2 separate regions of the Homo sapiens genome follow, and region 1 is linked to region 2. The links come from fine-mapping of genetic effects on gene expression. Tissue or cell type: whole blood. Region 2 holds a variant in brackets; the other region holds the start of a gene. All regions are shown on one strand. Distances are between the middles of the regions.

Region 1 (4,091 bases), 34 kb after region 2:
GTGCATGTGGGCACGCACAAGTCCTCTCTACAGACCCATTTTTCTCCAACTCACACTGAATGACCCCAGGCTCTCCCTGGTCCCTGGCCAGGCAGGGCTGGCACAGACACTCATCCACCTCTCTCTGGGCCACTTGCCTCCGGATAAGAGCAGGATTCAGTGGCTGCTCCCTCCACCCAGCACAGAGAGGAAAGCCTGGTGCAGCCATCTGGCTGAGTTGGGCAGAATCCTACAGAATGACTAATCCTCTCCAGCCACACTTCCTCCCGCAGAGGCAGAGACGCCCTCCCCTCACACTCACATACCCACACACAAAGACACTATCATGCACACCCTGCCCAGACATACAGACAGAGTGGAGGTGTCCTGTATACACCGGCCTTCAAACACCTTTACAGGCGCACACTGTGCCCATCTGCAGACACTTGAATGTGTGACTACACACAGCCCCACCCTGACATTCCTCCCCCCAACCTCCCTTGTGCCCTGTGGACTTGGACCTCCACAGAGCCGAGGACATTGACTGCACCAGGACAGACAGTTTCAAGGCAGGCCTCCTTCTCTGACCCCCATTCCAGAACCCCGCCCGCCGGGGAGAGCGAGCACTTACGCTTTCCATCGCTCTCTGAAGCTCTCAGAACCGCCTTCCTCTCTGCCTCCGCTGTCGCCGCCGGGCCCTCCCAGCCATCACGCGGGACGTCACGCGTGACGCCGACCAGCAGGGAGGGGCAGGAGCTTCCCGGCCGCGCCCACCCGGTGGGCACGGGGATTGGCAGAACCTGAGGGCGGTGGGTGTCATTCGAGGCGATGCCCCCAGCCTGGGCCACCTGGACCAGGCCCTAAGCTGCTTCCCAGAGCCAATCCCACCTCGGGGATCAGTTCTGGCCCCCTCCCCAGCCAAAGGGAGGAGGGGCTGGAGCCGCGGGCGCTGCTCCCTTGGTTTACAGTCCCCTGGCGGGCCTCAGCAGACCCCCAGCCCTGCAGCAAGCGGTCTAGGTGCCCAGAGAGAAAGCCCCGGGCGCAGGTGGGCGGTGTGGAGGGGCGGTCCTCTGCTGGCGCGCCGGGAGGGACTCGGGTTACCGCCTGGCTTGTTTACTTGATGGCTGCCTTGGCAATGGCCTTTGGCTTGCTTGTCCCCCTGGGCTCCTACCCCAGTATCCACAAGCTCCTCTTGTAGCAGCGCGGCATTCGCATCACTTCACAGCCCCGTTCCTGTCGTGCCTGTGCCTCTTCTATGTCCCCAGCCCTCTCCCTGCTCCCCCTCTGTAACCCCTAGCTCCACTGTGTCCCTGGTCTCCTTACGCTCCCAACCCCTAGCCCTGCACCCCAGACCGTAGCCCCACCCCTGAGATGTGGAGGGGCAGACGACCCCAGGAACCTCGCGGTCTGCATCCGAGCAAGTGCATCAGAAGGATTCTTAGGATTCTTCCGGTCCTGGGACCAGCTGCCCCACCCTGCGACCATTCCAGAACTGGGTAGCCAGAGACGCCTTCTGACAGAGGAGGAGGATGCAAGTGAAGAAGGCACCCCCTCCGCCACGCACATACTCACAACTCACCCAGCCACCACACAGAGCACGCCTGCAGCAAACTCAGGCTCACGTCCCGCTCTGCCCCGTGACGTCCCTCCACGGAGGCCTCAAGGGTGCCCAGGGAGGGGTGGCAATTCCAGGAGCCCCGGTAGCTGGCTCGGCTCAGAGAAGAGGTGGTTCGAGCCGGAGGGGAACAAGCCAGACCCAAGCCCTAAATTTGCGGAATGAGCTAGGGCGTCAGAACCAGAACTGGGGTGGGTAAAGAACTCCGCTGCCCGGGACCAGGTAACGCTCGGCTGTCCCTGGCGCCTAAGGGAGGTGCCGGAATAGAATGACTGGCGGCCCTACCAGCCAATGGGAGCCCGGGGCGGTGCAGGCCAGCCCAATTCCCGCAGCCTCCGCGCAGCGTGGGTGGGGTTTGCCGGCTGCGGCAGTAGCTCTCGCCTGCGGGTGGTTTGACAAGGCTGGCGGCGCCACACCAGCGACCAGGTGAGGCCGACCAGGCACAAAGGGGTGGGGGGCCTGGAGGGCCGAGTTGATGTTGGGGTGCTTCATTCTAGGTCCCAGAGCTTCTCTGAGGGAACTGGCCCTGGGTTTTGCGCGGGATGTCGTGGGACCCCTCTCCAGCAGATCCTCCCCAAAGCTTGGGAGAGGTTCATGCAGCCTCTTTAGACCCGGAGCCGCAGCCTGGAGCCCGCGGGTGTCTGGGGGTCTTCCTGGGCCTCAGCTGTCTAAGGTCCTGAAGCCCTATCCTCGAGGCCCAGCCCGCCCCACGCAGCCCCCGCCCCACCCCGGGCCACCTCCATGCCCGCATATGCATGAGAGAGGTGATGCCATGAGCTGTCCTGACCTCTCTTTTGTCTCACACCTCTCTAAGCCCCAGGGCCCGCAGTAATCCCAACTCCACTCTCAACCTCTACTGAGGACTGGGGACGGGAGTAGATGACTCAGCCCCGAGCAGGAATGAGGGGTGAAAGGTTCCCACCTGCCTTGTATAAAGTCAGCGAGAGTCCAAGATGGTGCCTGGACGGGGCAGTTCTCTGGCCTAGGGTGAGACAGGAGGGGGGCCTAAGGCATGGGAGGGCAGGATGCTTAAACCAGGGGGAGGGGTGGAAGTTTTAGGGGGCAGCAGGGGAAACATTTACACCCCTCCCTCATCCCTGCTCTCCCTGCCCAGGCCTGGAGCTCACACTTCTGAGAGGCATCGCAAGCGAGGGCCTTCACGTTACTGAGACCCCAGCCCCGCACAGAGGCTCATGGAGCTCGAAGCACGCAGGGCTGGCCTCTCCAGAGCTAGCAGATTCCTTCTGGACCTGTAGGGTGCCGCCCTAGCCCAGCCGCCATGGCGCAGGGTTTCGCAGTGGGCTTCGACCCACTGGGCCTAGGAGACCTGAGCTCCGGCTCTCTGAGCTCCCTCTCCTCCCGAGGCCACCTAGGCAGCGACTCAGGCTCCACCGCAACGCGATACCTGCTAAGGAAGCAACAACGGCTGCTGAACGGGCCCCCCCGCGGAATCCGAGCCTCATCGCCCATGGGACGCGTCATCCTCATCAACTCCCCCATCGAAGGTAGGGGCGGGACCCAGCCACTGGCCTGGGTTGGGGAGGGTGGGGGTAGGGGACAATGGGAACTCAGCAGGAGGAGGCAGAGCCAGTATGATTGGGGGAATTCAAGAGATGGGAGTCACAGGGAGGTGGCAGGCCGCCTGGGAACCCATACACTCTTCCTCACCTGCCCTTGGCCTCTCCTCCAGGCCAATCCTGCAGGGGTCCAGGGTCGTAGAAGGGTCAGAGGAGGGAAAGAAGGCCATGGCAGCAGGGACAGGCATGCGTGTGGTATGCTAGCCCCTGGTGGACAAGGCAGGGGATTGAACTGGCCTCTCTCCCATGGGCTCTGCCCTTCTCCAGATCCATTGTGTGTACTTCTGGGGGATGGGGCAGGATAAAGAAGGACATCCTCCATCAACCAGTCCATTGTGTGACAAGCTCTGTGCTGGGCTGCGAGGAGTCAGTGCCCAAGCGGGTAGACAGAATTCAGGGCTTCCGTGCTGAAGGAGGGGAATGAAGGCAGCACAGCAAATGTTCAGAAGAGGAGGGTTGAGGGTGGAGAGGGAGCTCCATCAGGGAAGGGGAGACCTAAGCTTATGTAGTTGCTTAATGCCGCTTCATGGAGCACAATTCTATACCAGCCCTGGGGAGGTGTTACAAGGGACCTAGAGAGAAATCAGGCTCCCTCTTCACCTTCCAGGAATCTACAGTGTAGCAGGACAGAGCAATAAGAACAGCTGGTGGCAGGGGTGAGCTGTCACCAACAAAGGCTGGAAGTGAAAAGCATGGAGCATGGTAGGTGGGCACTTAGGAGCCAGCCTGGCTGTAGTGACAGATGTGAGGTGACTAACAGCTGATGAGCAAGACAGGACCTAGAATGCCAGGTGCGGAGCCAGGCCCCCTGAGTCTGAGCTTTCTGTGAGCAGGACCAGATAAATATCTCCAGCTCCTCTCCTCTTTCTTAGCCAGCAGAGCTCCCCTGGCTGGATCCCAGACTGGACTGTTCAGGCCCT
Region 2 (4,107 bases):
AATAATCCTCGGCATCTCAGCACGTTTATTAAACCTTTCCCGTCCCTGCGCCCGCATTACTTTAATAATAAATCGCGTGTCACTTTCCAGCGACATTATTAAAGCGGGTCCGCTGCAGCAGAGGCGGGGTGCGGGGAGGGAGGGGGCGGTGGACAACAGTTCTCCCATTCCAGGCTGTGGTGCTTGAACCAGCAGGGCGGGGAGGGGAAAACTGAGGCTGCTAGGAGGCTGCTCCTGAACACCTACAAAGTCGGCTAACGCGATTAAGGAGTGCGGATTCCCCGGGACCTGCGTGACCCTCTCCGGTGGGGTGGGGCTTTTGGTGAGGAGCCTCTGCTCTGCAGGTGGACGCGGTAGGAGCTATGGGCCCGCAGAGGGCGTCTTGGAGCCCAGCTGGGCGAAGAACAAGCTAGGGGCGGATTCCCTGGCTGATGCTGGGACTCACACCCACGTCCCCTCTTTCAGCGCCGGGCGGATTTTGGCCACAGCGCCGAACAGCACGCCCCACCCCCGCCTACCCCTCTGATTCTGCTTCTGTGGGCGCCCTGGAATCGGCTCCCGGTATCCAGCCCGCTTGCGCTGTTGTGCGCGGCTCCTAGGGCCGCCCGCTTCCAGCCTGGGTTCGGCAATAAAAACTGTCGCTGGCTTAAGGACCCGGGGCAAGCCAGCAGTAGATGGAGTAGTGCGTAGCCGCGGGAGGGGCGGCCAAGCAGGACCTGGGGTTGGAGTTCCGGACCACACCCCTCCCATGTGGCCAGGCTCCCTGCGTTGGGCCCCAGAGGACAAACTCTGACGCTGAGCCAAGGGCAGGCCCTCCCGCAGTGGCGCCAGGATCCGGGTGGAGCCCTGGCGTGTAGGAGGCTGTCGCCATCTACACACAGCGCCTCGGCCTCGCTGACTTATGCTTTCATTCTTTCCTCCAATCATTAAATAAACATTGAGTCTCACCAGTGTCCCTGGGATAGGTAAGGAGAATGAGGAAAGAGATTTGGGGACCCCAAGCCAGAGAGGACAGGTCACAATTGGGGCAGATAGGAAACAGCCTTACCATGACTCTGGCTTCTGCAGGAAATGGGTAGATTCCTATGGGAGCTGGGGAAGGGTATGGACCACACAGGTGACCAAACTTCCACCCTCCTCTATCCAGTTTATGCTTTCATTTTGGGGGCCAACCCACATAGCCCTGTTCCCCATTCTGGCCTGGGGAAGGGTTTGGAATAAGATGAGCAAAGAAGCAGATAATGTATATCAGCCCCAATGGAGGGCAGACGGGGAAGATAACTTCCCTCCAGCCATATGGCTCCAGCCTCCCTCCCTCAAAGGCGGGATAGGCCCAAGTTCAAACTTTCTCTTTGTACATCTGGCAGGCATGTGCTTAGAGAGCAGGCCCTGCAGCTTCTGGAAGCCAGAGTTCTGTTAGTGTGGGAGGCCTCCCAGGGATATTCAGTTTTCATGTGCACATCTGCATAAACTGTCTGTGCATCATTAGAAATCTTTATTGGTGCCTAGCCCTGTGCTAGCCTTTGTCCAATACAGAGTGGTATAAGATCTCGAGCTGGCCTCACCTATCTCTCTGCACTGAACTAAGTCATGCTCCGCTGTTCTCTCTCTTGTACAAAAGACGGCAGACAGCAAAAGGGACTGCAGTTAGTAGGTGCAACTGGGGCTTAGGAGAGAGGGAAAAGTTCTGGAAGATGAGTTTGGGGAAAGGGCAAACAAGCTAGATAAACGTTGGGGACCAGGAAATAGCAAGAACCAGGGCCTGGGAGGAAGGGCAGTTAGAACTGTGGCCCAGCAGGGCTGGAAGAAGTGGAGAATCCTGGTGCCTGCACCTCTGTGTCTGCTCAGGCCCCCACCCCAGCCTGGGAAACAACCTGTTGGAGGTCCTACTGGCCAGGGCATCTCCTGCATGGGCCCCTTTGTACCCCACCGGTCCTGGTCTCAGCTTCTCTCCCTACCCTCCTCCAGCTTTTGTCTCTATCCTACCACACTGCTACCTTGGAGTCAAATAGGCCTCCCATGATCATCCCTACTGACAGCATGAAAGCAGTCGATGAAGGGACCCTGCTCCCCTTTCCAGGTCTTTTCAAGAGCAGGGATGAACACTATAGCCGCTCACCCACCCCCATGGGCCAGAGCTCTGGACCTAGTAGTAATCGTCATTCTCTTCACTCTCAGCCTCCTCCTCAGGAACCAGGTTTAGTGATCGCAGCTGGGGGATGCCTGTAGAGTTCAGCTGGTCTGCAAACACACATGGGCAAAGAAGAGAGAACAGGAGAGAGGGGCTGTCGGTGCCCACATAGCCCAGTCTGCGGAAGGCTATGCTTGTGTATACAGACACATGGTCTGTTTCTTACACATTCACAACTGGAATCCAGCACCATCCCCCCAACCCCCAGAACTCAGGAATCCCCTTACCAGGTGTGAGCACTGTCAAGCTAGCAGGGGCCTCCACTTGACCCAGGGCATTGCGG[C/G]CAAGGCAGCGGTAAGTGCCCTCATCACTGGGACGCACAGCCTGGATCTGCAGCCAGCCAGTCACCTCAAACCTCTGGGGTCCACCCCTAAACTGGAGCCAGGCAAGGAATCAGCAGGGTCCTTCTGGAGGGCCCTGGGCTGCCTGAGGGAAGCCTCTCCCACCAGTCTACCTGCACAGAGATGTGGGGGTCATCCCCTGGCAGCTGGATGTCCAAGCCATCCTTCCTCCACTCGATGGAGGCCATGGGGTAGGCAAACACTTCACAGCCAAAGATCACATCCTGCCCTGTCACATTCCAAGTGTCATATGGATGTGACACGATCTGGGGCCCTGGGGGTGAAGGCGGGAGGTCTGAGAATAGCATGGCCCAGCAAAGGCATCCAGTCTGGCAAAGACATGATACACAAATTTTTGTGGACATGCTTGTGGCAGAACACAATATATGCTGAGGTAAATACACATCCATAAACACACCGTGACACACACAGGTACACACAGATATGGATGCTGGTACACACAAGGGTACCACGCAGACGTGGAGATAGGTATACATGCACATGTGCACATAGAACCTCATGCAGACCCAATGCACAAACAAGCACACACATCTACATTGTAGCTTGGCAGCCACTCTGTCCCTAACTGCTCCCCTGTCCTCATTTCACCCTCCCCAGCCTTTCCTGCGTGCCTGTAATCAAAACCTTCCAGATCCCCCTTCCCCTTTTCTAAACAGGCCCAGTTCCCAAAGGAGGAAAAGCAGCCGTTCCCTCCTCAGTACCCCCTGGGGGAGTCCTGCGGCAAGGCAGAGAACCTGAAGCTGGACTTGTGCGACAGGCAGGAAGCCTGCAGGAGTGGAGGAAATTGCTGGGACCCCCACGGGGTGTTTGTTTTCTGGCTGCCCCAGCCGAGCCAGACGCAGAGCCCGGGCTCAGGAAGTGAAAGTTACTAAAGCTACCAAGGAAAGCTAGAGGCCTGAATGGACCCCAGTCCCCAGGGATAGAGAAAGAACTTCCCGCTCCCCTTCACTAATCCCTAAAAGCAGGAGAAAGCAGAGAGGTGGGGAGACTGGGTGAACAAACTGCTCTAAGAATGAAACGTGATTGCATCTCACAGGAACCCGTCTTGCTGCCTGGACTCCACTGGTCTGGGAAAAGTCGGGGGGGTCTCTGAGCAAACCATAGGTTATGTGCCTGCGCCCTCAGAGGACCTGTCTCTCCCTGCCAGCCAGCTCTGGAGCTTTCACGTGGTTCAGCGAATGCAGCTTGCTGACGAAGCCCGGGACTCCCACTCCACTCCACCCCCCACCCCCACCTTAAGGTGGCAGCTTTTATGAACCAGTAGCGAGAGCAGGGTTTTATACTGGACTCGAGGCCTCTATAGCCTTATCTTTTTTGCTCTGCTGGCCAGAGACCAATGCTGTCAGGGGTCGGGGAGCAGTGCCTCTAGGAAACCTAAGTGCTGGGGTGGGGGCCCCGGGCCATGCGTACCCGATTCGCAGGGCCCCGGGTGTGCCACAGTGAGGTTGGCATCGGGCCGAGCGCGGGCCGCCTCCTGCAGGCGGCAGATCTGGGAGTAGGTGTGACCGTCGGACCCGCAGAGCGGACTCTGCGAACGACAGGCACACAGAGGTT

What was found. PIP is the estimated chance that this variant, and not a neighbour inherited with it, causes the effect. A credible set is the group of variants that fine-mapping cannot tell apart.
Region 1: SFXN3 starts here. The variant in region 2 is the best candidate, but not a certain one, in a credible set for the expression of SFXN3 in whole blood (INTERVAL, PIP 0.84).

Annotation. Positions count from the first base shown.
Region 1 is chr10:101,029,002-101,033,092 of GRCh38, reverse strand. It overlaps SFXN3 (sideroflexin 3), which reads right to left and starts at 1,859. Exons shown (of 12, transcript NM_030971.6): 1 at 1,559-1,859; 2 at 611-779. It overlaps PDZD7 (PDZ domain containing 7), which reads left to right and starts at 1,964. Exons shown (of 17, transcript NM_001195263.2): 1 at 1,964-2,020; 2 at 2,709-3,099. The coding sequence starts at 2,874. RefSeq lists an enhancer at 1,337-1,546.
Region 2 is chr10:101,062,960-101,067,066 of GRCh38, reverse strand. It overlaps KAZALD1 (Kazal type serine peptidase inhibitor domain 1), which reads right to left. Exons shown (of 5, transcript NM_030929.5): 2 at 3,964-4,107; 3 at 2,646-2,806; 4 at 2,419-2,566; 5 at 8-2,241. The coding sequence ends at 2,147. Among named protein-coding and RNA genes, the nearest start is that of KAZALD1, 3.0 kb to the right of the region's middle. The variant C/G (reference allele first, on the strand shown) is at 2,475.